Linked DNA regions of Homo sapiens. The protein of the gene in region 1 purifies or fractionates together with the protein of each later gene. This does not show direct contact. Each region holds a gene or a part of one and is shown on either strand. Other genes may lie near its edges.

What was found.
Region 2: the proteins of COX11 (region 1) and COX19 purify together in Homo sapiens (affinity purification with mass spectrometry; one large-scale study listed by BioGRID and IntAct). This does not show direct contact.

What each region holds. Positions count from the first base shown.
Region 1 is NC_000017.11:54,962,563-54,965,750, reverse strand, and holds part of COX11 (cytochrome c oxidase assembly protein COX11, mitochondrial), read left to right. Parts: intron 1-898; coding exon 899-1,054; intron 1,055-2,319; coding exon 2,320-2,445; coding exon of another isoform or gene 2,446-2,490; exon of another isoform or gene 2,491-2,830; intron 2,831-2,835; coding exon 2,836-3,018; 3' UTR 3,019-3,188. UniProt on the Homo sapiens protein: Exerts its effect at some terminal stage of cytochrome c oxidase synthesis, probably by being involved in the insertion of the copper B into subunit I.
Region 2 is NC_000007.14:973,133-977,054, reverse strand, and holds the start of COX19 (cytochrome c oxidase assembly protein COX19), read left to right. Parts: upstream 1-1,505; 5' UTR 1,506-1,545; coding exon 1,546-1,627; intron 1,628-3,762; coding exon 3,763-3,874; intron 3,875-3,922. UniProt on the Homo sapiens protein: Required for the transduction of an SCO1-dependent redox signal from the mitochondrion to ATP7A to regulate cellular copper homeostasis. May be required for the assembly of mitochondrial cytochrome c oxidase.

The DNA.
Region 1 (3,188 bases):
CAAGCAATTCTTCTGCCTCAGCCTCCCGAGTAGACCTGGGACTACAGGCGCGTGTCACCACACCCGGCTAATTTTTTTCTATTTTTAATAGAGACGGGGGTTCACTGTGTTAGCCAGGATGGTCTCCATCTCCTGACCTCATGATCCGCCCCCCGTGGCTTCCCAAAGTGCTGGGTAAGGGCTTTTTTTAAAAGTGATGTCAAGGAAATAACTGTCATGAATAAAAGAAATGTCAGACATAAATACTCTTGATGCCCTATGATTATTTCTGTGGCCATAGGGATTAGGTGCTCTGATTAGTGATTTATATAAAAGCTCTACTATACAGAGAAGTACAGAAAAGATTCAAAACCATTAACCAACGTGGGAAAATACCTGTGATACCTTAGAAAAGCAGAATGTTAATAAAAGTGAAGCTACAATCTTATTTGGATTATAAAAGCTGTGATATGGAAAAGGACCAGACAGGAATATGGAAAAATTGAGTTAAGTATTTTCAGTGGAATTACAAGGTCATGGGTAAATTTTATTTCTATTAATGAAATACTAGCAATAAAGGGAAATGTGTTTTTTATAAATGGCTAAGCTGGAAATTGTGAGTTCGACTATCAGTGATAATAGTTGACTTATCTAGTGAACCTGCTTTTCCCAGACTCATTTTTGACCATGCCAGGTAACCAAGGGATTGCTGAAAAATAGGAATGACTTTAACAAATACAGGCTCATGACATCCCAAAAGTAGTCAGATTCTTGACACAGTTACAGCAATGGTCAGTTACCATATGTAAACTTGGCTCCAAATGGATTATAAATACTACATTGTTTTTAAACTTTTATCAAATAAATAGATCATCAACACCTAAAAGTATTGTTTAACATATTTGGTATCTTTTTCTAGACTACTGGACTTGGAGGATCAGCAGTTGCAGGTCATGCCTCAGACAAGATTGAAAACATGGTGCCTGTTAAAGATCGAATCATTAAAATTAGCTTTAATGCAGATGTGCATGCAAGTCTCCAGTGGAACTTTAGACCTCAGCAAACAGAAATATATGTAAGTGACTAACCAGTCATTAAAAGATTACTTTATTAATGTAAATTCCTTTCTTTCATCACTTAAACTGTCAGAGGACTAATTTTAACACTATGATTCTAATAAAACATGGCATTTTCCATTGTTCCAAATTGACTTTTACTATCATGTAACTTAAAAGTTAAAGTATAAATTCTGTTACATTAGGTGTAAAGCACTATTAAAAAGTAGTCTATGGGAATAAAAAAATTTATAGTAATGGAACCCGTCAGTATTTTGAAATTAAGTTTAGATGAGTGAAACAGTTGGGAGTAGCAGTAACCGTCAGGCTATATAGCTTCCTGACTTTTCCTCAGGCATAGAAGACATGGGAAAAATGTGGAAAAGCATTGGTTACAATGAGTAGTTTACTGGTTTATATCAAAAGTATCCCTGTCCTTCTAAAAGAAAACAAATTGAGGGCCTTTGAAATAATCAATAAGTAGTAAATAGTTATGTTATACTCCAGTGAGACTGAGACTATACCTAAACGCTTTCCTAAAATTTTAACCAACTGTAAGAAAGATTTTAACTGAAATCTCATTAATTGAGGATTAGCCAGAGTGAGTTAATTTCAACCCATATTGGAAAAGCCTTATAAATATTAGTGCTTGCCCAGTTTAGTAAACATGACTGAATCTCTTAATAAAGATTTTATAGGTTATGATTATGAATCTTCTCCAATTACGTGGTAGTATACAAAGGTATTAGTGGCTGAATTGGTACAAGTGACAGAATATCCTTTGGAAAATTTTTTTAAGCCTCGCTATTCCCTTATTTTCTCCAAAGTATTAACACTTTGTGGCATAATAAAGGTTCTAGTCAGTCAGTTTTATTCTGATTTTAAGGTAAGTTTAATGTTGGTATCTTTTTAAAAAAAATAGTCAATCATGACATTCAGGTATAAGTGTTACAGAAAAGTTGGGCTAGGGCTGTGATATGATTGGCTTGGACACATTTTAAATAATGTAATTTGCCGATTATTCCTTGAAGACCTCAAATATACAAGAGGACAGTTCATAACTAATTATGGATATTAGAACATTGGTTCTTCATTGACATATGCAAGTAAGTTTTTAAACTCAGATATGTTTATGGGTAATATTCACAATTTATTTTGCTGAACCCTACATTAGATTAGGTATTATGGTCTGATGAATAGGCAAAATAATGAGACTAATTTAGCAGGGAAAAGAGGAACTTTGTGAGATTCAAAGTATTGATAATATATATATTCTTTAAAACAGGTGGTGCCAGGAGAGACTGCACTGGCGTTTTACAGAGCTAAGAATCCTACTGACAAACCAGTAATTGGAATTTCTACATACAATATTGTTCCATTTGAAGCTGGACAGTATTTCAATAAAATACAGGTACATCAAAGTGTAAACTTTACAGAATATGATAAAGATACATGAAACGGTTTAGTATGAAACTTAGTGTTTTAGTAGATCTTGTGATTTCTGAAAACGAATTTCTTCTAAACATCAAGCTATTTTTCTTCACTATCTATACCTGCTATGCAGAGATTGAGAACCAAACCAAATGGATATCTGCTTTTAAGATTAGAATTTGTTCTTCATCCTTAAAGCAGAACTCATTGAGATGAAAAGATGCTCTTAATTTATCACAGAACTGTGTATTTAATAGTATGCTTATTAAAATCACGAAGTGTACTGGAATGCTAAGATAAAAGAACTGTATAGTTTCTGTTATGTAATACGAGAATAGAAATGTTATTAAAATCTTTCTATAATTTCCAGTGCTTCTGTTTTGAAGAACAAAGGCTTAATCCCCAAGAGGAAGTAGATATGCCAGTGTTTTTCTACATTGATCCTGAATTTGCTGAAGATCCAAGAATGATTAAAGTTGATCTTATCACTCTTTCTTACACTTTTTTTGAAGCAAAGGAAGGGCACAAGTTGCCAGTTCCAGGATATAATTGAAGTCAGCAACTAAGTCTTCCTTCAAAGTTGTGATTTTTGGGAAAATCATATATCCTATCTTCTCAAAGGAGAAATATTGTACAATAATATGAAGGCTTATATTTTAAATAATTATTTTTTCTCAACTAATTTTTTTCACTTAAACTTGAGAGAACAAGTTCAGCTTTTAT
Region 2 (3,922 bases), on another chromosome or scaffold:
GGAAATAGGTGCCAGGTGCGGCGGCTCACGCCTGTCATCCCAGCCCTTTGGGAGGCTGAAGTGGGCGGATCACTTAAGGTCAGGAGTTCGAGACCAGCCTGGGCAACATGGTGAAACCCCGTCTCTACGAAAAGTACAAAAAATTAGCCGGGTGTGGTGGCGCATGCCTGTAATCCCAGCTACTCTGGAGGCTGAGGCAGGAGAATCTCTTGAACTCGGGAAGTGGAGGTTGCGGTGAGCCGAGATCGTACCACTGCACGCCCGTCTAGGTTACAAAGTGAGACTCTGTGTTGAAAAAAAATATATTAGCTTAGCTGGGTGTGTTGGTGGCGCCTGTAATCCCAGCTACTCGGGAGGCTGAGGCAGGAGAATTGCTTTAACCTGGGAGGTGGAGGTTGCAATGAGCCAGGATCGAGCCACTGTACTCCAGCCTGGGCAACAAGAGAGAGACTCCGTTTTAAAAAACAAAACAAAGAAATAGGGTTGCTGCTGATATAATTAGTTAAGATGAAGTTATTGGGACGGCCCCTAACCCAACATGACTGCTATCCTTATAAAAAGAGGAAATTTAGGTTGGGCATGGTGGCTCATGCCTATAATCCCGGCATTTAGGGAGGCTGAGGCAGGAGGATTGCCTGAGCCCAGGAGTTAAGGACCAGCCTGGGCAACATAGGGAGACTCCATCTCTACGAAAAATAGAAAAATTAGCCTGGTGTGGTGGTGTGTGCCTGTGGTCGCAGCTACTCAGGAGGCTGGGGTGAGAGGATCGCTGAGCCCAGGAGGTCGAGGCTGCAGTGAGTCGTGATCATGCCACTGCACTCTAGTCTGGGCAACAGAGCAATACCCTGTCTCAAATAAATAAATAAAAATAGTAAATTTGGACATGCGCAGGACACCATGGGAACGTAGGGGCCGAGACCAGGTGGTGCTTCTGCAAGCCAAGGAACCTCACAGGCTGGCGGCCCCCAGAAGCTGGGAGGCTGGGACTGTCCCCAGGGCCCCCACTCTGCCCACTGCTTGGACTCCAGACCCCAGGACTGAGAGCACATTCCTGTTGTTGAAGCTGCTCGGTGGTGTCACCTGGCTCCAGCAGCCGCAGGCAGCGAGTCCACAGGCTCTCCTGTCCCTCCTGTGCCGCCTTCCTCCCCGGATGGGCCCCGTGATGAGGTCTCTGTGCGATGGGGAAACCGAGGCCCCAGCAGACACCTGGGATGCAGAGACGCCGGCACCGCTATGTGTCCTCGGGCAATTCGCTGAACCTTTCTGGGCCTCGGTTTCTCACCAATTCCAAAAGCTGATTCTGCTACCGACTGCTGTGAGGGTCCCAGGGGACGGGAAAGCCCGGGCAGCGCCCACCGGGGCTCAGGAGCTTGCTGACTCCGAGGGGGTGGGGCCGGGCCTGGGCAAGGGGTGGGGCCGGGCCTGGGCAAGGGGCGGGGACGGGGCCTGCTCGACGTGCTCGGCGCTCCCGGGGTGCCTGCTCGGCGCTCCGCCGGCCGCCCTGCGTACGCTCGCAAGGCGCTCGCAGACTCCGGAGTCGCCAACATGTCGACCGCCATGAATTTCGGGACCAAGAGCTTCCAGCCGCGGCCCCCGGACAAGGGCAGCTTCCCGCTGGATCACTTAGGTGAGCGGCGGAAGGTCGGCGGGCAGGGGTCTGCGATGGGGGGTCTGGGTCGCGGCCCAGCGCGGAGCCCTATGGGGTGCCGGCATCTAGCGCGGTGCAGGCGGGGAAACTGAGGCACGGCGGCCCGCCCCTCCGCCCCACCCAGCCCTGGGTCACTGCTGCGGCATGGACCCTGCAGGTGGGAGCTGGCAGGACCGTGGCCCCCGTGACGAGGGCAGCGACACCGACTCCTTGCGTCAGGCTTCCGGGTCTCCGGCTCCGCCCTGACTCACCCGGCGGGCTGTCTGTGCCCCGGGTTTGCAGAGCGGGGCATTCGGCGGCCACGAAGCCCGCAGCTGCAGCCGAGGCTTAGACGGTGCCTAGCGATGTCTGCTGCAAAGCTCAAAAGTGCTGCTGATCTCCCAGTGCTTCTGGCCGTATTCCGGTGGGGTTGCCTCCGTGGACATGAAGGCTTCGAAAAAGGATCTGTGGGCCGGGCGCGGTGGCTCATGCCTGTGATCCCAGCCCTTTGGGAGGCCGAGGTGGGCGGATCATTTAAGATCAGGAGTTCGAGACCAGCCTGCCCAACATGGGGAAACCCCGTCTCTACTAAAAATACAAAAATTAGTTGGGTGTGATGTGGCTCGCCTGTAGTCCCAGCTACTCGGGAGGCTGAGGCAGGAGAATCGCTTGAACCGGGAGACGGAGGTTGCAGTGAGCCGAGATCGGGCCACTGCACTGCAGCTTGGGCGACAGAGTGAGACAACGTCTCAAAAAAAAAAAGAAAGAAAAGAAAAGAAAAACGATCTGTGAATTACTGTTTCTTTCCCAACATTTTATTGTGACATTTTCAAATAGCAAAAATGAAAGAATTTTTACCCTGAACTCTCCTGTGACCATCACCTACATTGCACCTTAACCTCGTACTGGGCTGACTTTACCTCGTTGTGGGTTTTTTCCATTGTTGTTTTCAGCATGTTTATGAAGGAAACAAGTTTGGGTTTGATTGTTTTTGTTTTGAGACACGGTCTCACTCTGTTGCTTAGGCTGGAGTGCAGTGGTGCAATCATAGCTCACTGAAGCCTCGGCCTCCTTCCTTTCTGGACTCAGGGGAGTCTCCCGTCTCATCCTCTAGAGTAGCTGGGACTATAGGTGTGCAGCGCCACACCCAGCTAATTTTTTTTTTTTTTTTTTTTTTAGAGATGGGGTTTCCCCATGTTGCCCAGGCTGGATTATTTATTTATTTATTTTTGAAATGGACTCTCACTGTGTCGCCCAGGCTGGAGTGCAGTGGTGTGATCTCGACTCACTGCAACCTCCTCCTCCCGGGTTCAAGCGATTCTCCTGTCTCAGCCTCTAGAGTAGCTGGGACTATAGGTGTGCAACACCACACCCAGCTAATTATTATTGTTTTTTTATTTTTTATTTTAAAGATGGAGTTTCCCCATGTTGACCAGGCTGGATCATTTATTTATTTATTTTTGAAATGGAGTCTCACTCTGTCACCCAGGCTGGAGTGCAGTGGTGTGATCTCGACTCGCTGCAACCTCCGCTTCCTGGGTTCAAGCAATTCTCCTGCCTCAGCCTCCCGAGTAGCTGGGACTACAGACACCCGCCACCATGCCCGGCTAATTTTTGTATTTTTAATAGAGATGGGGTTTCACCAAGTTGGCCGAGCTGGTCTTGAACTCCTGACCTCAGGTGATCCGCCCACCTCTGCCTCCCAAAGTGCTAGGATTACAGGCGTGAGCCACCGTGCCCAGCCTGGATTATTTTTAGGAGACAAGGTCTTGATCTGTTGCCCAGGCTGGAGTGCAGTGGTGTGATCAAGCTCACTGCAGCCTCGAAATCCTTTGCTCAAGCGATCTTCCTGCCTCAGCCTCCTGAGTAGCTGGAACCACAGACGTGCGCCACACCTAGCTAACTTTTAAGGTTTTTTTTGGTAGAGATGGGGGTCTCACTGTGTTGCCCAGGCTGGTCTCAAACTCCTGGGGTCAGGTGATCCTCTCAGAGTGCTGGGATTACAGGTGTGAACCACTGCGCCCGGCCTGAGGAAACAAGTTTTGAAAGGAAAAGCAGCGCAGCTCTTAAGGCTGTTGTGTGGTTGCATCACTTTTCACTCTGAAAAGAACATGCTGTTTTCTTTCTCGTTCTAGGTGAATGTAAAAGCTTTAAAGAGAAATTCATGAAGTGTCTTCATAACAATAATTTTGAAAATGCTTTGTGCAGAAAGGAATCAAAAGAATATTTAGAATGCAGGATGGAGAGGTGAGTACAGCTAAGCGTTATGATTTCCACCTCCCACTACTCCAATTA